Linked DNA regions of Homo sapiens. The protein of the gene in region 1 interacts with the protein of each later gene in a biochemical or structural test. Each region holds a gene or a part of one and is shown in the gene's direction. Other genes may lie near its edges.

Region 1 (3,500 bases):
TGTAGTGCAAGGGCTGGGCATGGTGGCTCACGCCTGGAATCCCAGCACTCTGGGAGGCCGAGGCAGGCAGATCACTTGAGGTCAGGAGTTCGAGACCAGCCTGGCCAATGTGGTGAAACTCCATCTCTACTAAAAAAAAAAAATACAAAAACTAGCTGGACGTGGTGGTGGGTGCCTGTAATCCCAGCTACTTGAGAGGCTGAGGCATGAGAATTGCTTAAACCCGGTAGGTGGACTGCACTCCAGCCTTGGTGACAGAGCAAGACTGTCTCAAAAAAAATGTAGTGCAAGGAGAGAGAGCGAGGTTGGGGTGAGGTTTAGGAGAGGGTTTGTCTTCTAGGCAGAGAGAATTACTTAGATGCGTCTCTCCGATGTCTAATGATCTGCAGGGTCTCTAAACTCACTTGGCATAGGTTTATTTGCACTGGAGTTGCACCTCCTTCCAGGTCAGTCTTACAAGTCCATATGCGAGACAACGTTGTGTCAGGACAAACATCACCCTTGGAAATCCCTTCCTCCAATAACTATTGGCCGGTTGTCCTTCTTGCGCGGGTACAGACTGCGCTTATTCAGTTGACTGTCTGGCTGAGTCAAGTCATTGGCTTACGTGAGTGTGAGTGGCCAAGTTGCAAAACTGGCTCTTACCTTTGAATCTTCCCCCATTCATACTCAGCCAGGCACATGGGGAGGAGACCCTTAAGGGAATAGCAGCGTCACCTCTGCCTTCTCACGGTCCCTCCAGGAAGTGTGGGGGTCCCAGGCTTTGGTCTGAAACTACACTGAAATAGCTCATTTTTGCCTTTTGTTTTAACTTTTCCAGGTGAAAATGAGTTACTTAAATTTTCTTACATTCGGACATCTTTTGACAAGATCTTGCTGAGATGGGAGCCGTACTGGCCCCCCGACTTCCGAGACCTCTTGGGGTTCATGCTGTTCTACAAAGAGGCGTAAGTAGAAGAGTTAGAGAGACGCTGAGGAGGCGAGGGCTGGCTGGCTCTGTGCTTGCTACGTTTGTGCTCCAATCTGCCCCTCTTGGGTTCCTGTCTATCTCCCTCCTCCTCCTGGAATAAATATCTTAGGTTCCTTTTTACAATCTCACCAGTCGATGGCATGCAAAGTCAATAGTGTCTGCTTTTATCAAATGCCTAAAATGGAAGCAGACAGCTTTCCCATAGAAGCCCGGACTGGCCAGTTTCCTGGGGCAATATTCTATTTTGCCTTGCCTGTGTATGTCTCATCAGACATCCTTAGTAGTCAGGAGCTCAGTCTACTAAGTGGATGTTATCAAATGTATTGCTTATCTATTTTTCTTTTTTATCCCCAATTTTTTTTTTTTTTTTGAGACAGAGTCTTGCTCTGTTGCCCAGGGTACAGTGCAGTGGCAGATCTTGGCTCACTGCAACCTCTGCCTCCCGGGTTCAAGCAGTTCTCCTGCCTCAGTCTCTTGAGTAGCTGAGATTATGGGCATACACCATCACACGTAGCTAATTTGTGTATTTTTGATAGAGACGGGTTTTGCCATGTTGGCCAGGCTGGTCTCAAACTCCTGACCTCAGGTGATCTGCCCACCTTGGCCTCCCAAAGTGCTGGGATTACAGGCATGAGCCACCGCACCTGACCAGTAGTAATATTAATAATAGTTCTAGCCCTCAAGATTTACCTTGTGCCTTGCTGAGCACTGACACACAGTCTAATCTTATCAGTAACTTGTGAGGGAGCTCCTGCTATTACTATTATTACAGATTGAGTATCCCTAATCTGAAAATCTGAAATTTATAATGCTCCAAAATCCAAAGCTTTTTGTGGGCCGACTTGATACTCAAAGGAGATGCTTATTGGAGCATTTCAGATTTCAGATTTTTAGATTAGAGATGCTGAACCAGTACAATGCAAATTAACTAGTAAAATGCAAATATTTCAAAACCCCAAAATATCCAAAATCCAAAACACTTCTGGTCCCAAGCATTTATTTATTTATTTATTTATTTATGTTTTTGAAACAGAGTCTCCCTTTGTCGCCCAGGCTGGAGTGCAGTGGTGCGATCTCAGCTGATGCTACCTCTGCCTCCCGGGTTCAAGCAATTCTCCTGCCTCAACCTCCTGAATAGCTGGGATTACAAGCATCTGCCACCATGCCCAGATAATTTTTGTATTTTTAGTAGAGACGGGGTTTCACCATGTTGGCCAGGCTGGTCTCGAACTCCTGACTTCTGGTGATCCGCCATTCTCGGCCTCCCAAAGTGCTGGGATTACAGGCGTGAGCCACTGCACTTGGCCAAGTCTCAAGTGTTTTGAATAAGGGATGCCCAAGCTGTGTTTTTTCATTGAGATGTCAGGGTTGACAGTTCCTTTCTCTTTGGCTGTTCCCGAGTTATTTTTTCTTGTGGCATTAGATTGTTGGGTGAGTAACATGTGACCCTATGGGATGTAACTTCCCAGGCCTCATCTGCACGGCACTCAGTGTGACGGTCTTGTAAGGGTAACTGCCTTCTGCTGTTTTGTCTTGAAAGCCCTTATCAGAATGTGACGGAGTTCGACGGGCAGGATGCGTGTGGTTCCAACAGTTGGACGGTGGTAGACATTGACCCACCCCTGAGGTCCAACGACCCCAAATCACAGAACCACCCAGGGTGGCTGATGCGGGGTCTCAAGCCCTGGACCCAGTATGCCATCTTTGTGAAGACCCTGGTCACCTTTTCGGATGAACGCCGGACCTATGGGGCCAAGAGTGACATCATTTATGTCCAGACAGATGCCACCAGTGAGTGTGTCTTGGGAATGTGAATTCGTATGTGAATCAGACCTCTTGCTTTTAATAGGCTGATGCAGTGAGGTTGTATAAAATGCTCCTTGATATGGTTATTGGCTTTTTTTTTTTTTTTAGACAGGGTCTTACTTTGTCACCCAGGCTAGAGTGCAATGCAGTGGGGTGATCATGGCTCACTGCAGCCTCAAACTCCTGGGCTCAAGCAATCCTTCTGCCTCAGCCTCCTAAGTAGAAGGAACTACCAGAGTATACCACCATGTGTGGCTTTTTTTTTTTTTTTTCTTTGAGATGAAGTCTCACTCTGTCACCCGGACTGGAGTGCAATGGCATGATCTCGGCTCACTGCAACCTCCGCCTCCCAGGTTCAAGTAATTCTCCCACCTCAGCCTCCTGAGTAGCTGGGACTACAGGCATGCACCACTATACCCAGCTAATTTTTGTATTTCTTGTAGAGACAGAACGTTGCTGTGTTACCCAGGCTGGTCTTGAACCCCTGGCCTCAAGTGATCCTCCTGCCTCGGCCTCCCAAAGTCCTGGGATTAGAAGTGTGAGCCACCTTGCCCAGTCAGTTATTGGCTTTTAAAGGAGCTGGGTATTGAGGCTTATAGTTTCAGACGAGGCAGTAGCAACAAGCCACTTGATGGGAATATTTATATTTTTCATCCTATTATGAAAAATTGTCAAATATTCACAACACAGAACAAAACCCCATAGTTAGCCGCCTCCCAGCTTC
Region 2 (3,500 bases), on another chromosome or scaffold:
TTTAAAGGATTATTTTTCAAAAGTTACTGAAAGCAATAGGCACCTTTCAAGACCACCATGATGTTGCTGGAAATTATTTTGTGTAATGCCTTTTATTTTTTTAAGAAAAAAAAAACAGAACAAATTGCTTAATCTCTCTGTGGCTCAGTTTTGTCATCTGTAAAATCAGATGATAGTGAGTACCAACTAATAGTTGCAGTGATGGTTAAATTAATTATTTCATGTATACCCCTTGAAACAGTGCTTGGCACATACAGTGAGTTATTATTTTTAAAAATCGTTATTGATATTATTATTACTGTTGCTGCTATCCAGAAACATGTTGCCACTCTAATCATCCTCTTTCCTGATGTCACTTGGCTACTCAAAAATAGCAGCAGCTGGTGATTTTTTTACTTAACAAGTGCTAAGTCTTCTGCCTGAGTGTGAAAACACACTTAGACACTGTCCTACCTCTCATATGCCTCCCCAGCCAGAGCTGTTGTCCTGATCAGGTTTGTCACTAAACTCAAAAACATTCCTTCTTCCGTTTGTAATATTTTCTTTTCTCCCTTACATGTATTCAGTTCCACTTACCTTTCAATGAACAGCTGAATTCCACTTCCGGCATGAAACTCCCTCATTCTCACAGCTCCCGTTAATTACTGTAGTGTCCAAATTACTATGATAGAATCAACCCAATGACTGATGATCAAATGGATTCTGCATCTAACATTCAAAACAGTAGCTAATACCGATGTTCAAAGTTTGGAGGTTACATATCAGAAAAGGTTTTCTAAAAAAGAATCATTCTGAAACATGCAACTCAAGACTTACAGTATACACTGGGGGCTGTGTTTTCTCAGAAACAAAAGAGATCGTCTTCACAAATGAATCTGAACTTATTAAATATTTTATGTACCAAATTAATGATATAAAACCATAATTTTTCAATATTTAATTTTACCAATGATAATTGAGTTTGTTCAATACACTGGCTGATAATTGTAGGTACTTTTGAGTATCAAGGATGTACTTATTTTTCAATCACTCAATAGTTTGGAGTTCACTTGGAACAATGTGATGTAGAGACCAAATTAATTAGGTACGTGGTAGTACTGACTTTTAACGACTTACTAATTTTTTTTCACATTTTTCCTCAGAAAAAGATTGCCTCAATCTGGATAAAAACCTGATCAAATATGATTTGCAAAATTTAAAACCTTATACGAAATATGTTTTATCATTACATGCCTACATCATTGCAAAAGTGCAACGTAATGGAAGTGCTGCAATGTGTCATTTCACAACTAAAAGTGCTCGTAAGTTATATGTTTTAATGCTTCTTTCCATAAATGGTAAAAAGCAAGGTATGAACTTTTTAGCCTACAATATTTCTATCTTTATTCTAGCAAGCACATTTACCTGGCACATTTGTTAACATCTAGGGCTTATAAACACGTAAAATCTAAAAGTTTAAAAACCGTTATCCTGGATTCTCTCTCTTCTTCAGATATAGTCATAGAATTTTAAGGACAAAGCATAAAAGCATCTTAATTGGCATCAGTTTGTGCAATTTCATGCAGTTAAGTACTTAACCAACTTAGATTAAAACATTCACTGTTTGCTGTTGTCTTTACTATCTGGAAATATTAATTGTAATCAGAAACCTAACAATGTCTCATAAAGCATTAGCCTACTAACCTCTGTTCATCTGATAAAACATTTCATAAAATGTAATATTTTATTAGCATTTTCTTCTCTTCGTTACCCTCAACTACTTACTATTCTATTTTATGTCACATTATCCATTTAAGGTTTCCTTTCAATGGCATTTGGCTCTTGCCACTAGTATAATCTCTCCATAGTTTCCAGGCCCAAAGTTAGATCTGCTTCTGGGGCACATGTTAACCTCCATCGAGGACAGGGAAGAAGAAATGCCGTGTTTTAAGGCAGCATCTATAGCTCCAGAGACCCTAACGGGCACTAGACTTGTGAAGAAATATTGTGCTATTTGGGGCTGAATATAAGACACTTTTAAGGTCATTTAGGTTTTGGTTTGAAAAGTTCTGGTCCTGGAGCTCTATGCTTTTGTTGTTTTCCTGAGTTTCTGTATCACAGAAAAAGAAGACAATTTGTTTCTGTTCCTGAAGAACCCATCTAGGTGTTTACCAGGATAACATTAGCACTCCGGGAAAGAAGGGTCTAGATTGTGTAATAGGACTTGGAGGTTTCCCAATCAACAACATTTTTCCTCTCCTCTCCCCAAACTTCCCCCTCTTCCCCACTCCCTTCCCTTTTTCTCTATTCTCTAATTCTACACAGTCTCCTTCAGGGATTGCAATAACTCTCATGGCTTCATGTACAACCTATATGCTAATACTTACTGAATAAATGAGTGATTTATTCTTCAGGGTTTTGATATTGTTTTTTAATTTATGTACTATCATAACTTCCTTATTTATAACCCCCAAGCTAACACTTAAAATACTTTATACTATATCCAAGTATTGTCAAGTAATTTACATATGCATCTATTAAATTATTAATAACAAATCTTTCTTCATTTTGATAGCTCCAAGCCAGGTCTGGAACATGACTGTCTCCATGACATCAGATAATAGTATGCATGTCAAGTGTAGGCCTCCCAGGGACCGTAATGGCCCCCATGAACGTTACCATTTGGAAGTTGAAGCTGGAAATACTCTGGTTAGAAATGAGTCGCATAAGAATTGCGATTTCCGTGTAAAAGATCTTCAATATTCAACAGACTACACTTTTAAGGTAAAAGTATGCTCTCTACATTACTATAGTACCAACTACATTATAATGATTGATTCATAGTACTTAAATAACTTTAAGACCACTGCTCACATGAGATTGAGAAGCTCTGATGTGTAATGGAATCACACTTAAAGAGTCTCAAATATTTGACTCTAAAATTTTTATTCCTATAGCTCAAGTCAGTGGTTTAAAGCAAATGTTTCATTGGAATATTTTAGAACTTCAATATGACTTAATTATAGCTAAATTATTGCTTCTGTGTTAAGAAGCACAACACTTTATGCACAACAGATTATTACTTTACCAAATCTACCTTTTCTTTACTTTGGCTTTTTATCTTTATTAATGTGGAATTTTTCAATTGCAAAATTTCACAGGTACCTTGAGGTTAGGAAATATTTGAAATAAACACTAGACAATACTAGTGAGCATACAGAATTTAAAACACTCATTATCTCACTGTCTACTGATCGTATTTTGTACATGTAACTTCATAATATACACATTTATATGCACTTAACACGTATTATCAACATTCTGAGTACACAGTTTTCAAAATACAGTTTTAAAACTGTATTTTTAATATATCACTATATCACACACACCTTTCTATGTTAAATATTTAACTACTATGTAGTTTTTAATGCCTGTATAATATTCTATGTATGGCTTTATCACATTCTATTAACTATAACTATGTTGGTCTCTAATATAAACAACATTCCGATAACACACTT
Region 3 (3,500 bases), on another chromosome or scaffold:
GTATTAATTCATTCAACAGGAAGTTAATGAGCCAGGCAGGATAAAGCAGTAAGATAGGAAAATATTGCTATTTTCATGGCTGAGAGAGAGCAGACAAACACATGACTAAATAGGGCAATTTCAGGTAGTAATAAATTCTAGGAGGGAAAAAATCCCACAGAAATGTGAGGATGGGAGAATGCAGTTAGTTTTGATAGGTGGTTTAGAGAAGGTGATCGTGTGAGCTGACACCTGAATGACAATTAGTAGTCTGAATTTTGTTTTGCTTAATTATCAAAATAACTCCTCTTGGGTTCGGCTTTTATATGCATCCAGTAATTAAAATGTAAGTATATTCAATGTACTGATATCTCTCAGCATCATAGGTAGGAAAACTAAGGCATTCAGCAATTAAGTGACTCCTCCCTTGATCATGTAGCAGTGATAGTACTGGATTTAGATTTTGAGGTTGCTTCTCTGCCCTTTTCTGCCTTTGTGAAACCAACAAAGCTGCCTGTATTTTCCAACTCTTCCTTCAGCATGTGGTACCTCCTTTACATCTGTTTTTGTTGCTCTGAAATCCATACGCGACGATGAGCTGAGAGGGGCAGAAAATTGAGCTTGTTCTGAGACTGGAGGCTTTTGGTTTATCTCTTGCAGGTCAAGTACATTTTGTCCTGGGCTCTCCCTGGTGGCCACGTTTGTTTATCTCCTGCGGGAGTAAATAAACTTGCCTTGCTGAAAAATAACAGTTCTGTGTCTTTGCAGTGGAAACTGGGATGTCTTTATTAACGTTAGGTCCTGATGTAAGGCCAAGTTTTTGGTTAGAGTTGCTCAAGTGCAGAGGCCACTGCTAAGATGACTTACCCCTCGTGTCCATGGTCAATGTGGAGACTGTTATGAGTGGCACATGATGCTGGAAAAGCAGAGCCAACTCATGTTTGTAATTGTCCTAGCAGGCCGTGGTGTACTTTGTTAGGCAGCCACAGAACAATAGAGAAACTCAGCTTATTCCCCTTCCCTCTGGGAAACACAGACAGTACTTGCCATCCAACGCCAATGTTTTTAAGGAAGAAAGAGGCAAAAAGTGATGTTGGCAAGGTCTCTGGGAGTTGTGGACCCCAACCAAGGATTGGAGACCCTGAAATGGATTCAGATGCCCTAAAATGCAGCCCAGTTCATTACTATGAATTTTGGAGGACTTTGTGCCTTGAGCAAATGTGTATATGTGACGCTCTTTGACAACACTGAAATAGGAAAAATACTATCCATGTTCGCGAGGAGCACTGAATTTAGAGAGGGAGACAGACTTTTATGCCAGCATCAAATGAATTTGATAAAGCTAGTACCAAAATGAAATTTGAAATTTTTTTTTTTTGAAATAGAGTCTTACTCAGTCACCCAGGCTGGAGTGCAGTGATACAATATTGGCTCACTGCAACCTCCACCTCTTGGGTTCAAACAATTCTTGTGCCTCAGTCTCCTGAGTAGCTGGGATTACAGGTGCGTGCCACCATGTCTGGCTAATTTTTATATTTTTAGTAGGGATGGGGTTTCACCATGTTGGCCAGGCCGGTCTTGAACTCCTGGCCTCAAGTGATCTGCCCACCTTGGCCTTCCAAAGTGCTGGGATTATAGGCATGAGCTACCACACAAGCCTGAAATTTGAAATGTATTGGTATAGAATATACTGTTTAGAATGTATGTGTATATATGTATATTTGTATACTCATATAAACACAAATACACATTGTATGTGTTTCTGTAATATGTATATCTGTCTACACATACATGTATATACACACATACAATGTCTTTTTTTTTTTTTTTTTTTTTTGAGACAGGGTCTTACCCTGTTGCCCAGGCTGGAGACTGCAGTGGCATAATCTTGGCTCACTGCAGCCTCGACCTCCTGGGCTCAAGTGATCCTCCCATCTCAGCCTCCTGAGTAGCTGGGACTGACTACAGGCACGTGGCATCAAACTTGTCCAATTTTTCTATTTTTTTGTAGAGTTAGGGTCTTGCTCTGTTGCCCAGGCTGGTCTCAAATTCCTGGGCTCAAGCTGTCTGCCTGCCTCGGCCTTCCAAAGTACTAGGATTACAGATGTGAACCACTGTACCTGGCCTTTACAATGTCTATTTTAAAGATAATGGTTCAAGTTTTTATCATCCCACTGGCCTACTCTAATGAAACATCTATCCATTCATTGAAGAATTATTTATGGTGGGATAACTCTGTGCCAGGTACCGTGCTAGGCATTGAGTATTCCAGGTTTTAGGAAACAGCACATGCAAAAGTGCTGAAGTGGGAGAAGATCTCGGAGTGATTGAAGGCTAGGAGAGAGCAAGTGTGGGAGCTGTGAGGCTGGGAAGGTGGGAGGTAGGTGGGAGCAGACCACATAGGGATTCTTAATGTCTTTAGTGTCATGTGGACCATGGAGAGGAGTGTAGATTGTATTTTTAGAGCAATGCAAAATCATAGAAGGATGTGATCGGGGGAGTGGCATGAGCTGATCTATTTAAAAATATTTCTCTGGCTGCTGTGAAGGAAGGATTGTAGGAGGCAGGAGTAGATTCAGGGAGATGAGACAAGTGATGAGAGAGGCTTTGAACTTGGGTAAAAGTAGTTTGTGGAAAGTCTTTTTTGGAGGTAGTTTTTGTTTATTGCCTTGTCATCAAAGCAGAGATGCTGACCAATGAAACTCCATGAGAAAATAGTGATTTATAAAGACATATCTATGCACTGCCATTAAAAAGCTGCTTGGAAAAAAAGGATAAAAAGCTGCTTTAACAACTTTTTTTTTTGAGATGGGGTCTTACTCTGTCACCCAGGCTCACGACCTCAGCTCACTGCAACCTCTGCCTCCCAGGCTCAAGCATTCTCCCACCTCAGCCTCCCGAGTGGCTGGGACTGCAGGCACACGCCACCATGTCAGGCTAATTGTGTGTGTGTGTGTGTGTGTGTATGTGTGTGTGTGTGTGTGTGTGTGTGTGCTGGGACTGCAGGCACACACCACCATGTCAGGCTAATTGTGTGTGTGTGTGTGTGTGTGTGTGTGTGTGTGTGTGTGTGTGTGTGTGTGTATGTAGAGATGGGGTTTTGCCATGTTGCCCAGGCTGGTCTCAAAATGTTGCCCAGGCTGGTCTCAAACTCCTGAGCTCAGGTGATCCACCCGCCTCGGCCTCCAAAGTGCTGGAGATTACAGACGTGAGCCACTGTGCCCACCTAACAACTTTAAAAAAATTTTGACATTTAGTAGGATATTTATTGCATTATTGTTGAGATGGCAAAATATTGGAGACAACTGAAATGTTCATCAGTGGGGGGGGCTAGTTAAATGAAATACAGTGTAGCATGCATTAGAACACTTTTCAAGAATTTAACTTTTTTTGTAGCCTTTTACTTATAATGCTTGTCCCTATTGATGCCTTTTTTTTCAGCATGACTTACTCTTTTACTATAGGATATTAAAATTTAATTAGATTAGAAATGAGGAATATTCTTGTAATCTGTAGAAAGT
Region 4 (3,424 bases), on another chromosome or scaffold:
CACCTGCCCAGGGAGGTAGCAGGAGAAAAGATGATCTTAGTTTAAGTCCTGGCTCTACTTCTATTTGCTGTGTGACCCTGGGTATTCCCCTGCCCCTCTCTGGTCCTGAAATCTCCCCACCTGGCTTGTGGGGGGAGGTAATAGTGGGCGGGATCTACCTGTACCAAGTCCTGCTCACTCATGCTGCTTAGGATCCGAGGCACCTGCAGTACGTGGCAGATGTGAACGAGTCCAACGTGTACGTGGTGACGCAGGGCCGCAAGCTCTACGGGATGCCCACTGACTTCGGTTTCTGTGTCAAGGTGAAGACCTGGCCAGGCCTGGCCCCTGGCCTGGGGAAGCAGGAACTGCTCAGGCCCCTGGATCCTGCCCGGGGCTTCTGAGCCCCAATTCAGACACCTAGACTCCTCTCCCTGCACCCTGGCCTGCTGGAAACTCCTGGATTCAGCTCTGCTATGTGGAGCAGGGGCAGACATGTGGTCCTAAAGGCAGATATGGGACCAGTCAATTTCCTCTCTCTGCAGCCCAACAAGCTTCGAAATGGCCACAAGGGGCTTCGGATCTTCTGCAGTGAAGATGAGCAGAGCCGCACCTGCTGGCTGGCTGCCTTCCGCCTCTTCAAGGTGAGACCCTGGGAGTGGCATGGGGGGCTGGCCTGGCCAGAGGGATCCCCAGCTCTGCCCTCAGGAAGTCTCAGGAATGAGGAGGGCATCACAGCCTTGCTCTCTGATAACCCCCAGTCCAAGCCTGAAGTTATAGGAAGTGCCCATCGAAGGCAGAAACACAGCCCTGGTCTGGGCAAGTCCTGGTCTGAGGGGGGCGTCACAGCCACGCCCCCAGGACCTCTCGACCTCAAGCTCTCTTTCTCTCCCCACCCCCAGTACGGGGTGCAGCTGTACAAGAATTACCAGCAGGCACAGTCTCGCCATCTGCATCCATCTTGTTTGGGCTCCCCACCCTTGGTGAGTGTGCCCAAGGGGATGGGAGGGTGGGTATGCAGGCCCTGTCTTACGGGTACCTGGGCCCTGTTCTGACCTCTCTCCTCTCCTTCCATCTCCAGAGAAGTGCCTCAGATAATACCCTGGTGGCCATGGACTTCTCTGGCCATGCTGGGCGTGTCATTGAGAACCCCCGGGAGGCTCTGAGTGTGGCCCTGGAGGAGGCCCAGGCCTGGAGGGTGAGGCCTGCTGTGTGTGTGTGTGTTTGTGCTGGGGACCCACTCTCTGGGTGGGATCCCTGAAATAGGAGGGAGGAAGAGAGGGCGGGGGGAGGCCCCTGGCTGGGAAGAAGTGCTCTACCTTCCTGAGGTGCTGGGTAATGCCCCCAAGCACGCCCCGACTCTCCCGTATCTCCCACTGCTCCACAGAAGAAGACAAACCACCGCCTCAGCCTGCCCATGCCAGCCTCCGGCACGAGCCTCAGTGCAGGTGGGTGACGGCCCCGAGTCCTGGGGCGGGGGCTGCCTCAACTTCTCTTTGTATTCCCAGTGGGGAGTAGATGGTATAGGGGTCCCCTCCCCAAAGTGACCGCCCATGTCCTTCCCCACCACAGCCATCCACCGCACCCAACTCTGGTTCCACGGGCGCATTTCCCGTGAGGAGAGCCAGCGGCTTATTGGACAGCAGGGCTTGGTAGACGGGTAAGGGGCAGGGCCGGGCAACAGACCCAGGGATAAGAGAGACTGGGGTCCAGGTGGCAGCCATGGTCCTTGGGTAGTAATGCTGCCCCATCTCCTGTCTTCTGGCAGCCTGTTCCTGGTCCGGGAGAGTCAGCGGAACCCCCAGGGCTTTGTCCTCTCTTTGTGCCACCTGCAGAAAGTGAAGCATTATCTCATCCTGCCGGTGAGCTTCCCTGCGTCCCCGGAGTCCTGCAATGAGACACAGGACTCCCAGCAACCTGTCCTCCTCACCAGGCCCCTCCAGAGGCTCCCTGGCCCCCAGTGCGTCTCCCTTTTCCCTGCACAAGAAGTGGGAGGCTGAGTGCGGTGGCTCACACCTGTAATCCCAGCACTTAGGACGGCCAAGGTGGGAGAATGGCTTGAGCCCAGGAGTTCGAGACCAGCCTGGGCAACACAGGGAGACCCCATCTCTACAAATAATTTAAAAATGAGCCAGGCATGGTGGTGCACACCTGTAGTCCAGCTACTCAGGAGGCTGAGGTGGGAGCATTGCTTGAGCCCAGAGGGTCAAGGCTGCAGTGAGCCATGGTGGCACCACCACACTCCAGCCTGGATGACACAGTGAGAAAACTGTCTCAAAAAAAAAAAAAGAAAGAAAAAGAAAAAGAAAAAAGAAAAGAATAAAAGGAAATGGTGGGGCCCTGGCCCAGGAGGGAGCTTCCCAAGCCTCGGGCCCCTCCCTGAACTTCCACCCCCTTTACTGTACCCCAGAGCGAGGAGGAGGGCCGCCTGTACTTCAGCATGGATGATGGCCAGACCCGCTTCACTGACCTGCTGCAGCTCGTGGAGTTCCACCAGCTGAACCGCGGCATCCTGCCGTGCTTGCTGCGCCATTGCTGCACGCGGGTGGCCCTCTGACCAGGCCGTGGACTGGCTCATGCCTCAGCCCGCCTTCAGGCTGCCCGCCGCCCCTCCACCCATCCAGTGGACTCTGGGGCGCGGCCACAGGGGACGGGATGAGGAGCGGGAGGGTTCCGCCACTCCAGTTTTCTCCTCTGCTTCTTTGCCTCCCTCAGATAGAAAACAGCCCCCACTCCAGTCCACTCCTGACCCCTCTCCTCAAGGGAAGGCCTTGGGTGGCCCCCTCTCCTTCTCCTAGCTCTGGAGGTGCTGCTCTAGGGCAGGGAATTATGGGAGAAGTGGGGGCAGCCCAGGCGGTTTCACGCCCCACACTTTGTACAGACCGAGAGGCCAGTTGATCTGCTCTGTTTTATACTAGTGACAATAAAGATTATTTTTTGATACACCTATGAGTTCTGTCTGGCAAGGCCTGGCTGGCTGAATCAAGAAGGGAACCAGAGCTGGACGTGGTGGCTCATGCCTGTAATCCCAGCACTTTGGGAGGCCAAGGTAGGAGAATTGCTTGAGTCCAGGAGTTTGAGACCAGCCTGGGCAACATGGCAAGACCCTGTCCCTACAAAAAATAAAAAAATGAGCCGGGCATGGTGGTGTGCACCTGTAGTCCCAGCTTCTCAGGAGGCTGAGGTGGGAGGATCCCTTGTTCCTTGAGCCTGGGATGTCAAGGTTGCAGTGAACTGAGATTGTGCCGCTGCACTCAGCCTGAGTGACAGAGTGAGACCCTGTCTGGAAAAAAAAAGAGGGGAGACCTGGAGAGGTGGGCACCTGTGGAGGCCTTGGTGGAAGTGTCAAATGGATCGAGGCCATGTCTCAGCCTGCCTGGATGTTCCTCAAGGGCAGGAGTGGTTATCTGAGAGTCTCCAGTGCCCACCATGCAGCTTGACACAT
Region 5 (3,500 bases), on another chromosome or scaffold:
TGGGGGGCAAAATCACTCCTGTTGAGAACTGTTGGTCTGTGTTAACATGGAGGAGTATTTTGTTGACCCTTTTAGGATTTATGTATTGTAGTATTGGGTGGTTGAACTTAATTTACAGGTATCCAGAGGAGCTTGTATGGTAGAAGTTTCAGGGAAGGAAGGCAATTTCTTCAGAGCCATAGGAGTATAAAAATTGCATGTGGCCCAGCATGGTGGGTCACACCTGTAATCCCAGCACTTTGGGAGGCCGAGGCGAGTGGATCACAAGATCAGGAGTTTGAGACCAGCCTGGCCAACATGGTGAAACCCCGTCTCTACTAAAAATACAAAAAATAGCCGGGCATGGTGGCAGGCGCCTGTAATCACAGCTACTCGGGAGGTAGAGGGAGGAGAATTGCTTGAACCCAGGAGGCGGAGGTTGCAGTGAGCCGAGATAGTGCCACTGCTGCACTCCTGCCTGGGGGACAGAGCAAGACTCTGTCTCAGAAAAGACAAAAAAAAAAAAACCCTGTATGTTTAAGAGTTGATATAAAAAGGTATTTGAGAGAGAGAGGAGAAAGTAGCAGGAGTCATCTTTTTACTTTTTTTAATGTTGTGTCTCTGGCATAAATGTAGAGAAATAGAAGTAAACCTGGGATCAGGAGGGCCACACACTTGAATAGCCTGTACAGAATAGTGGGGTAGAAAGCAATAAATTTTTCTGAACTGGAGGTATGGTATTTGAACTTTATTAAATTTTGATTTTCTGGAGATGGGGAAGGGACAGGGAGGACTCAACTTTCTGACTTACATGTTTTCTTCTGTTATACCCGGTGTACCTAGCAAGGATGGGCATAATAGAAGAATGGTTTCTTTTGCTGTAAGGTATTTCTATAAAGTTGTATGGAAATTGATGTTGGTTCTTTAGTTTGTGTAGCTCCACGTGTAGAATAGATTTTGAGGTTAGGTGTGGGAGGATTAATCAATAATTATTGCCGCTGCTGCCGCCATTATTAGTAACAAATTTTGAGGTGTGGTTTTAACTAACCCATATAATCCACTTTTCTAGATTACTTGGATACTTTTGCACTTGGGTTTGTAAATAATACTAATTGGTGGATTTGTCACTTTGACATGTTGCTTTTTGCCTCTGCTTTCTGATAATCTGGGATATGGTTACTCGAAAATTCAATTTACTTTTTACTGTAGTTTTAAAGTTGTTTCTGTATATTTTTGCCATGACAAATCTACTTCTCTTTCTCCTTCATAATTTGTTATATGCATAATGAAAATGAAATGGGGAAAAAGTACAGTTGGATTTAGAAATAAAAGCTGTTTTTTTAGGCTTAAATATTTGAAGCCTGAAATTTCTTATTACAACTTTTGATAAGAGGAAGGGAAGATGGAAAAATAGATTTAGGTGCTGGTTAACAGAACGGCAGAGATCTTGCTGATCTTGGGATCAGTTTTCCTTGTATGAGAATAACTGGTTGATGGGATGAACTTAAGTAAAAGTTAAGTTTTTGAGGAACTGGCAGTTTTTGAATTTAAGCTGCTGCAGATCTGATTTCTAATTAATCAAGTAAAGGATTTAATAACCTTTTATTTGCATTAAATTGGTTCATGAACTTGTCCAATGGGTCTTGTTAATATAATCTGTTCCTCATAATTCCCTTGTATGGGAATTAAGGTAAACTACTTTTTAAAGGATGATTTGCTCTTGTGTATCTTTTATAATTAACTGTTCTAGTTGTATAAGTAATTTAAAAACATGATGCACTTTTTCCCCTTTCAGTATAATAATCATGAAATTCGTTCTGGAAAACATATTGGTGTCTGCATCTCAGTTGCCAACAATAGGCTTTTTGTGGGCTCTATTCCTAAGAGTAAAACCAAGGAACAGATTCTTGAAGAATTTAGCAAAGTAACAGGTAAGTTGGATTTATTTGGAATGAGGTGCAGCTTTTAATAATGAAGATTAATAGCATATTTCTGTGCGTCATGCATTGTTCTAAATACATTTATTGACTCATCGAATCCTCACTACAACTTTTGAAGTGTAGGTAACCCCATTTTTCAGATAAGAAGAACAGGCATTCAGGGATTTGGGAAATAACTTGCCAAACGTTGTACAAGTTAGTAGGGAATACAGCTAGGGTTTGAATTCATTCTGCAAAATCATTGTTCTTCCTATGTTTTGGAAGATCGTATTTCTTTGTGTGTTCTTTCTCTAGGTGTTAGTTGATGTTCTTAGTAGAATTGTTTGAATAATGATTTGATGTTCTTGAAATTACAGGAGTAGTAAGTATTGCCGTAGCAGAGTGTTTTTTTTTTTTTTTTTTTTTGGAGACAGTCTTGCTTTGTTGCCCAGGCTGGAGTGTGCTGGTGTGATCTTGGCTCCCTGCAGCCTCTGCCTCCCAGATTCAAGGGATTCTCTTGCCTCAGCCTCCTGAGTAGCTGGGATTACAGGCGCGCACCACCACACCTGGCTAATTTTTGCGTCTTTTGTAGAGGTGGGGTTTCACCATATTGGCCAGGCTGGTCTTGTACTCCTGACCTCAAGTGATCTGCTTGCCTCGGCCTCCCAGAGTGTTGCGATTACAGGTATGAGCCACCGTGCCTGGCCCATAAACAGAGTTTATATATTGTCAACATGGTAAAAAAATTTTTTGAACTGTAACAACTTTTAAGTGACAGGTTGCTTTTAGAAAATATTTTGGTCTGCCAACAGTGTCTAACAAATTATCAGCCTGTTATCAACTTTCAGGACATTGGAAATTTTTATGCAGTACTTATAACTTCTATTTTATTTGAAATAAAGCCATTGATATCTAAGGCCAGAAAAGTGCCATTAAAAATAATTTTAGTGTTTGCATAATAAGAAAAATAGCCATATTTGATCTATACTGCCATTTTCTTAGAACAATTATATGAAAATTTTTATCTGCCTCTCTGATCTAATTAGTGAAAACAAAAGTAGTCCTTACCTCTAAAAAGAGCACATGTTCTTTTCTGGAGATTTCTGTGTTGAAAAACTTGGAAACAGATTAGGAAAATAATCCGGACCTAGTTTTTGATAGTCTTTTATAAAGATGTCTAGTGAAGGAAAGAGATGATTTTTCATTTTGATATTTAAGTAGTATCTTAGATAAATCCTTTGATCCACTTGTATTTGCTAGTTATTTCATCTAATTTTCCTGGAATGGTTGCTTACTTGCAGAGGGTCTTACAGACGTCATTTTATACCACCAACCGGATGACAAGAAAAAAAACAGAGGCTTTTGCTTTCTTGAATATGAAGATCACAAAACAGCTGCCCAGGCAAGGCGTAGGTTAATGAGTGGTAAAGTCAAGGTCTGGGGGAATGTTGGAACTGTTGAATGGGCTGATCCTATAGAAGATCCTGATCCTGAGGTTATGGCAAAGGTAATGATAGTCAAGTTAAAAATATTTTTTGAGGGATTAATGGGAGAAGGGCCGGGGTTGGGGTGGGGGGAACATAAAATGAACAGTATACATTT
Region 6 (3,500 bases), on another chromosome or scaffold:
AAGCACTGCCACGAGATGATGGTACATCTAGGAAAACTAGACACAATAGTACTGATCTGCCCATGTGAGCCTGGAAAGCATTGTGTTGTTTGCACCTTTGTGAAGTTTTTAAAAATGAAGATGCAAGTGCTTCATTTTCATTTCTAAACACTAACTCCTTTTATAGACTGATAAAATTTTTTTCTGAATATTTCATGTGCATCTTTAACTAAAGGGAATTAATGTAGAGCAGGTACTCCTTAAAGAACACTAATTTCATTATATACTACTCGTTGTACAGCAGCATTCCCGTTTTCACAGTGCCTATTTAAAATGAGAGTTGAAGTAAATGACATGCTGGTTGATTTTTATCAATATTCTGGACTTAACGCATACCTTTCATGTCTAAGTCATGGTTGGCTTTTAAAACTTTTTATAAAGCCTCTTGACAATGTACATTGCTAACAGGTAACTATAGGCTTTGAAAGTAATGCTCGTAGATTCAGTGTTCACAGTATGTGGCCTCCAGCATGTAACATGAGGAATCCTTTATTTCATTAATTAATGGCTTTTTGACTTGAGCCAAAACATATGTAAAGGAAACAGAAGTACCGCACCTCCTCTTACACCAGTCAGCTCCTTTGCCTTCAGTGTTACTAGAAAGCGGCCTGTGTCCATGAGTGTGCTTTGCTGTTGGTGCACTGAAAGGCAGGAAGGAGACAAGATTTTCTATTTACTCATCTCATGATGTCATTTGAAGGGCATGTCCAGATATCTTAAAATTATAATAGGCTCAAGAATCAGTCTCAGGTCACTTTACCCAAAAACATTTGAAAATCTGAACCACAATCTCCTGAAAGTTTTTCTCCTATAGATTGTTGACAACACATTGTTTTCTGGAGGCATTTGTGCCATTAGGTTTCCATTTATCTTCAGTTTTTTTCTTTGGTGTTTGGGATGTCTTATTTTGTTGCCTTATGTCCTTTTCAATTTAAAATGTTTGAGTTTGTATATAGTTTTGAAATTGGATTATGTGTTCATTGTTGTTTAGTTTGCATTTTTGTCAAATTATGGTTTTGAAGGTTCATTTGGAACTTACTGTTAGTCTGTAACAGGGTTGCCCTTGTCCAGTATTTATTTATAAGCTGTTTACTTTTCAAGTTGATAAAAACATTCTCCAATTCTAAATTTGCTTGTGTCCATAGGTGATCTCTTTAGCAAACTGAGAAAAAAAGGAAGCTACTTTTAACATGCAAAGTTCCCTCAAGGTGTACCGTGTTGTCTCTGTGGGCACTCTTCCCCAGCACTTTAGCAGTAATTCCCCCAGCTACACGCTGCAGTTGTACTCTGCCCACTCTAGTGTTCCTCAGCTCTGCTGTCCTTTTACTTGTAGCTGGATCTTTGATTATCCTTCGATTTCCATGAAATATTAATATTGTTGCCAGCATAGCAGGTACAGTGGAAGTCTTGTAGCAGTGAGATTGTATCATAATTTAGGATTTAAAATGAATTAAAGTTTATATAAACTGAAGAGTCTCCATATGTCAAACTCTTGGAAAATCAAAGATGTTCCAATTTCCTAAACACTAGAGAATACGAGAGAAGGTAGAGTGGAAAAGGTTAGGTAACCTTGCAAAATATTTTACTATTTTCTCTAAATATGAGGAAGTTTGAGATTATGATCTGGATCTACCAGATATAACTAAGGTTAATTTAGCATGAAAAAGTTTTAGTCATATTGGCATCCAACCTATTCAGTAACCGAATCATAGGACAATGATGGATTAGGAGAACAATAGAGTGGGATCATTATAAAGAAAATAAATTATTAAAGGTGTCTTTATCGTTTTAGTGCCATTTTTAGTGTCTTTACTATAAATCAATATCAGTGTATTTTATCATTCTATGTGCATAGCAGAATTTTCTTTTCTCCCTTTTGTTCCCCTGTGAACTTGGTGCTTATTAAAGTGCTCACTGTTCTCTTAAAAGAGAGCAGTGGTATAGGTGTGCAGTTTCCATGATGCAGGTTCCATTTTTAATATATTGTTCCACTTATCCTTTCTTCTGAGTAAATTGCTAATTGTGCCAAATTTATGTAATAGTTTTTGTAATGTGGAATAAGAATTATGATGGAACCATTGCACATTTTTTTCTGAAACAGCCAGTCAAGGCAGAACATTAATCTCCAAATGCAAGGGCTGATCTATTTATTCATTTTGGAGGTTGGGTACTTTATTCTTTCTTTCCGTCATCCTTTTCATTGTTTCCCCCGGATTCTAATTAGTTTTTATTTTTTTTAGATAACTCCAATATAATCATTACAGTTTATGCTTTAAATACTATGTGCTTTAAAAAGGAAAATGGGACCAATTTGTCTGCTAAGAATTTGATTTTAGGTACTATAAGAGTATTAGGAAAATATATACAACTGGTGTTAATTTCTAGATATTTTCTAGAAATCACTTGTGTTCCTATTTAATAAAAGGTAATTTAGAATACTACTTGTCCTTTGCAGTAGTTTAGTAATGGGCATTAAGCTGTGTCCTCGAAGGATGTACCTATTACTAGGTGCATTTTAGAATGAAATATTGATATTTTATTAGCATATAATTGTGGCCATATATCTCAGATTTTCTGAGGCAGATCTAATTTTAGATAATTCTGTTGGTAGACCATGTGATCCTTCTTTTTGGTTTTGGAAATATAATCATTGTTAATGTTTTCCCTCCAAATAGAATACTGTTTTATCCATACAAATCATAACAGCATCTATCCCATGCTAGGGTTGGAAACTGATATTGGTATTACTTGTGTTTTTTCTTAGTGTGTTTTATTTCCCAGTTTCATCTTCTTCTAAAAATGAAAATATGGTGCCTTCCCTCCCTCCAGGAAGACTGGCAAATATTTCCTTTTATTTACTGCTGCTGTGGAGTGATGAGATATGCACTTTACTCTTTAAGATTCAGCAAAAAGCTTTTCACTTCTCAGTATATCCAGAATACATCATATCTGGGACTTAGGAAAATTTGCCAAGCAATCTTTGTTTTTATAGATACTAATGTTGACCCTCTCCAGCGTTCAATGTTATAAATAGAACAAGTCAAGCTAGTGTTTATCTCCTCCCCCTCCCCAAAACTGTGGCACAGCATATAAAAATGTACCTCAATAATGTTCTATTAAAAATGGGACAGGGGCCTTATGTTTTCATAATTTCCCAACAATGTGCCGCCATATTTTTGCCTCAAGGTAAAGGTTTTAACAGATGAAAAAGTACTTCCCAATTCCCCCGTGCTATTCCTAACCTATAATGCCCAAATGTTTTGTGCAATGTGTAGTGTGTGTGTATAAATACATATATTCTTGAAATAGACATACCATCAGAGACATCATTCACAAGTAACTGATGTATTGGCATCTCATTCATATTTCTGATGTGTGAGGTATATGGTACTAATTACCTTTTCCTTGATGTTTGCCAAATTTGAATAAAGGCATTGGTACGAAATTACAGAATGTAAAGA
Region 7 (3,500 bases), on another chromosome or scaffold:
AAATGTTCTCTACAATATTATTTTAGGGGGCTACAACAGCCTGGCAGGGTGCTTACCAGGATATCTCGATGCTTAGCACAGTGACTTGCCCATAGTGTAGATTAAAGGTCCCAACACTAGGCTTCCAGTCCCAACACTGCATCTAAATATATGACCTTGGCCATTCTCTGGCTTTACTTTATTTATTAAATGAGCACTTTGGACTAGGTAATCTCTAAGGTCATTTCCATTTATTTATTTATTTATTTTATTTATTTTTTATTTTTGTTTTTTTGAGAGCTTGTCTCACTCTGTTGCCCAGGCTGGAGTGCAGTGGCACAAACTCGGCTCACTGCACCTCTGCCTCCTGGGTTCAAGCAATTCTCCTACCTCAGCCTCCTGAGTAGCTGAGATTACAGGCACCTGCCACCATGCCTGGCTAATTTTCTTTGTATTTTAGTAGAGACAGGGTTTCACTATGTTCGTCAGGCTGGTCTTGAACTCCTGACTTCAAATGATCTGCCTGCCTTGGCCTCCCAAAGTGCTGGGATTACACGCGTGAGCCACTGTTCCCGGTGGTCATTTTCATTTCTATAATTAGATATTATATGCTTCTAAGTGACAAGAGACTAAAGACATTTCCGTACTGACCTTTGTATGTAATCAGCTGACACCACAATTTAGAATGTCAAACTATCCTCATGGTATTGCTGATTTGATTATGGTTAGAGGCTGATGTGTCTCTAGTGTGCATAGTTATAATTGACACTGATGGGTATAAAGCAGTTCACAGGGCTTAGAACAGACAAAATTTGAATCTTCTAGGTTCCCTTCAATGTTCACATAAACTATAAATCATCCTAATTTTGGAATCTGACAGCTTCAGTAAAGCCTTCTGGATTTCAAAGTCATCTGTGATTCCAAAAAGAGTCTCTGAATATTATACCAGCCTCTGTGTAACATTCTGAAATCCCAGCTCTAAATAAATCTTATTGGGTGTTTGGTTTAAAGGTGAACTCAAGCAAACCTATTATTGAAAATCTGGTTCCTGGTGCCCAGTACCAGGTTGTAATATACCTAAGGAAAGGCCCTTTGATTGGACCACCTTCAGATCCTGTGACATTTGCTATTGGTAAGTTGCTAGCCACAAGAAGAATGACTGACCTATATATTAGGGTATTGACGGAGGGGTGCAATGTGCGAGCTCAAATCATTATCATCGTATTTGGAAGGTCCATATTAGTTCATCCAATATGCTACCTTCAGAGTAATAAATAACAAGAATTGTATACTTGGAAAACATTCTTAATATTTATTACTTGGGGAAAAAATCAGAGGCAAACATTCTTACTTTAGTTTTCAATGATTATACAACAAGAGTAAAGCTGTGTGCCGTGGCACACACCTACAGTTCCAGCTACTTGGGAGGCTGAGGTGGGAGGACTGCTTGAGCCCAGAAGTTGTTTGTTTTTTTTGTTTTGTTTGTCTGGTTTTTTTTTTGTTTTGTTTTTTTTTTTTTTTGGAGACAGAGTCTCGCTCTGTCACCCAGGTTGGAATGCAGTGGTGCAATCTCAGTTCCCTGCAACTTCTGCCTCCCAGGTTCAAGCAATTCTCCTGCCTCAGCCTCCTGAGCAGCTGGGACTACAGGTACATGCCACCATGCCTGGCTAATTTTTTGTATTTTTAGTAGAGACGGGGTTTCACCGTGTTAGCCAGGATGGTCTCGATCTGACCTCGTGATCTGCCCACCTTGGCTTCCCAAAGTGCTGGGATTACAGGCATGAGCCACCACACCCAGCCAAGCCCAGAAGTTTTAATCTAGCCTTGGTAACATAGCAAGACCCTGTCTCAAAAAAAAAAAAAGAAAAGAAAGAAAAGAAGAAAGAAAGAACGAACGAAAGAGAGAGAGAGAGAAAGAAAGAAAGAGAGAAAGGAGAAAAAGTGAGAAAGAGAGTGAGAAAGAAGAGAGTGAGAAAGAGAGAGAAAAAGAAAAAGAGAGAGAAAGGAAAGAAAGAAAAGAAAGAAAGAAAGAAAAAGAAAAGAAAAGATGAAAGGAGGGAGGGAGGGAAGAAGGAAGGGGGAGGGCAGGGGGAGGGAGGAAGGAAGGGGAGGAAGCAAGAAAGGGAGGAAGGAAGGAAGGAAGGAAGGAAGGGAGGGAGGGAGGTAGGTATTGTATCAGAGAGTGAAAACTCGGGTCATTAAGTAGAAGTTTGAGGCCATTGCTAAGACATTCCTTCTTAACTTTCTTTTTCTACCCCCTGCCCTCTTCTTTCTAGTTCCCACAGGAATAAAGGATTTAATGCTCTATCCTTTGGGTCCTACGGCCGTGGTTCTGAGCTGGACCAGACCTTATTTAGGCGTGTTCAGAAAATACGTGGTTGAAATGTTTTATTTCAACCCTGCTACAATGACATCAGAGTGGACCACCTACTATGAAATAGCAGCAACTGTTTCCTTAACTGCATCCGTGGTAATCTTCCCTTAACCAACTGTCAGTCTTTCCTATGGGAACAGGCAAACCTTTATGTACCAAATGTGTCTTTAAGAAATTATCTATAAATTTGATTATTTTGTAAATACACATAGTGTGTTAGTTCATTTTCACACTGCTGATAAAGAAATAGCCAAGACTGAGCAATTTACAAAAGAAAGAAGTTTAATTGGACTTACAGTTCCACGTGGCTGGGGAAGCCTCACAATCATGACAGAAGGCAAGGAGGAGCAAGTCATGTCTTATACAGATGGCAGCAAGCAAAGAGAGCTTGTGTAGGAAAACTCCCTCTTATAATAGCCATCAGATCTCATGAGACTTATTCACTATCACAAGAACGGCATGGGAGAGACCTGCCCCCAGGATTCAGTTACTTCCCACAGGGTCCCTCGCACAACACTTGGGAATTCAAGATGAGATTTGGGTGAGAACACAACCAAACCATATTATTCTGCCCCTTGCCCCTCCCAAATCTCATGTCCTCACATTTCAAAACCAATCATGCCTTCCCAACAGTCCCGAAAAGTCTTAACTAATTAACTCGAAAGTGCACAGTCAAAAGTTTCATCTGAGACAAGGCAAGTCCCTTCTGCCTATGAGTCTGTAAAATCAAAAGCAAGTTAGTTACTTCCTAGATACACTCGGGGTACAGGCATTGACACAGCTGTTCCAAATGGGAAACATTGACCAAAACAAAGAGGCTACAGGCCCCATGCAACTCCAAAATCCACTGGGACAGTCAAATCTCAAAGCTCCAAAATGATATCCTTTGACTCCGTGTCTCACATCCAGGTCATGCTGATGCAAGAGGTGGGTTCCCATGGTCTTAGGCAGTTCCACTCCTATGGCTTTGCAGCATATATCCCCCCTCCTGGCTGCATTCACAGGCTGGCATTGAGTGTCTGCAGCTTTTCCAGGTGCACAGTGCAAGCTGTCAGTGGATCTACCATTCTGGGGTCTGGAGGATGGTGACCCTCTTCTCACAGCTCCACTAGGCAGTACCCCAGTAGGGACTCTGTGTGCAGTCTCC

The links.
Region 2: of the proteins of INSR (region 1) and PTPRC, one has a biochemical effect on the other in vitro, tested with the Homo sapiens proteins (one large-scale study listed by IntAct).
Region 3: the proteins of INSR (region 1) and PTPN11 form a complex in vitro, tested with the Homo sapiens proteins (2 studies listed by BioGRID).
Region 4: the proteins of INSR (region 1) and GRB7 form a complex in vitro, tested with the Homo sapiens proteins (one study listed by BioGRID).
Region 5: of the proteins of INSR (region 1) and SYNCRIP, one has a biochemical effect on the other in vitro, tested with the Homo sapiens proteins (one study listed by BioGRID).
Region 6: of the proteins of INSR (region 1) and FRS2, one has a biochemical effect on the other in vitro, tested with the Homo sapiens proteins (one study listed by BioGRID).
Region 7: of the proteins of INSR (region 1) and PTPRO, one has a biochemical effect on the other in vitro, tested with the Homo sapiens proteins (one large-scale study listed by IntAct).

What each region holds. Positions count from the first base shown.
Region 1 is NC_000019.10:7,165,415-7,168,914, reverse strand, and holds part of INSR (insulin receptor isoform Long preproprotein), read left to right. Parts: intron 1-820; coding exon 821-947; intron 948-2,510; coding exon 2,511-2,761; intron 2,762-3,500. UniProt on the Homo sapiens protein: Receptor tyrosine kinase which mediates the pleiotropic actions of insulin.
Region 2 is NC_000001.11:198,715,540-198,719,039, forward strand, and holds part of PTPRC (receptor-type tyrosine-protein phosphatase C isoform 1 precursor), read left to right. Parts: intron 1-1,142; coding exon 1,143-1,301; intron 1,302-2,554; coding exon 2,555-2,763; intron 2,764-3,500. UniProt on the Homo sapiens protein: Protein tyrosine-protein phosphatase required for T-cell activation through the antigen receptor. Acts as a positive regulator of T-cell coactivation upon binding to DPP4.
Region 3 is NC_000012.12:112,421,947-112,425,446, forward strand, and holds part of PTPN11 (tyrosine-protein phosphatase non-receptor type 11), read left to right. Parts: intron 1-3,500. UniProt on the Homo sapiens protein: Acts downstream of various receptor and cytoplasmic protein tyrosine kinases to participate in the signal transduction from the cell surface to the nucleus. Positively regulates MAPK signal transduction pathway. Dephosphorylates GAB1, ARHGAP35 and EGFR.
Region 4 is NC_000017.11:39,744,362-39,747,785, forward strand, and holds the end of GRB7 (growth factor receptor-bound protein 7), read left to right. Parts: intron 1-191; coding exon 192-302; intron 303-524; coding exon 525-623; intron 624-740; coding exon of another isoform or gene 741-881; coding exon 882-962; intron 963-1,060; coding exon 1,061-1,177; intron 1,178-1,366; coding exon 1,367-1,427; intron 1,428-1,551; coding exon 1,552-1,639; intron 1,640-1,747; coding exon 1,748-1,841; intron 1,842-2,389; coding exon 2,390-2,536; 3' UTR 2,537-2,924; downstream 2,925-3,424. UniProt on the Homo sapiens protein: Adapter protein that interacts with the cytoplasmic domain of numerous receptor kinases and modulates down-stream signaling. Promotes activation of down-stream protein kinases, including STAT3, AKT1, MAPK1 and/or MAPK3. Promotes activation of HRAS.
Region 5 is NC_000006.12:85,622,387-85,625,886, reverse strand, and holds part of SYNCRIP (heterogeneous nuclear ribonucleoprotein Q), read left to right. Parts: intron 1-1,774; coding exon 1,775-1,910; intron 1,911-3,199; coding exon 3,200-3,405; intron 3,406-3,500. UniProt on the Homo sapiens protein: Heterogenous nuclear ribonucleoprotein (hnRNP) implicated in mRNA processing mechanisms. Component of the CRD-mediated complex that promotes MYC mRNA stability.
Region 6 is NC_000012.12:69,574,888-69,578,387, forward strand, and holds part of FRS2 (fibroblast growth factor receptor substrate 2), read left to right. Parts: coding exon 1-68; 3' UTR 69-3,500. UniProt on the Homo sapiens protein: Adapter protein that links activated FGR and NGF receptors to downstream signaling pathways.
Region 7 is NC_000012.12:15,514,508-15,518,007, forward strand, and holds part of PTPRO (receptor-type tyrosine-protein phosphatase O isoform a precursor), read left to right. Parts: intron 1-990; coding exon 991-1,111; intron 1,112-2,255; coding exon 2,256-2,449; intron 2,450-3,500.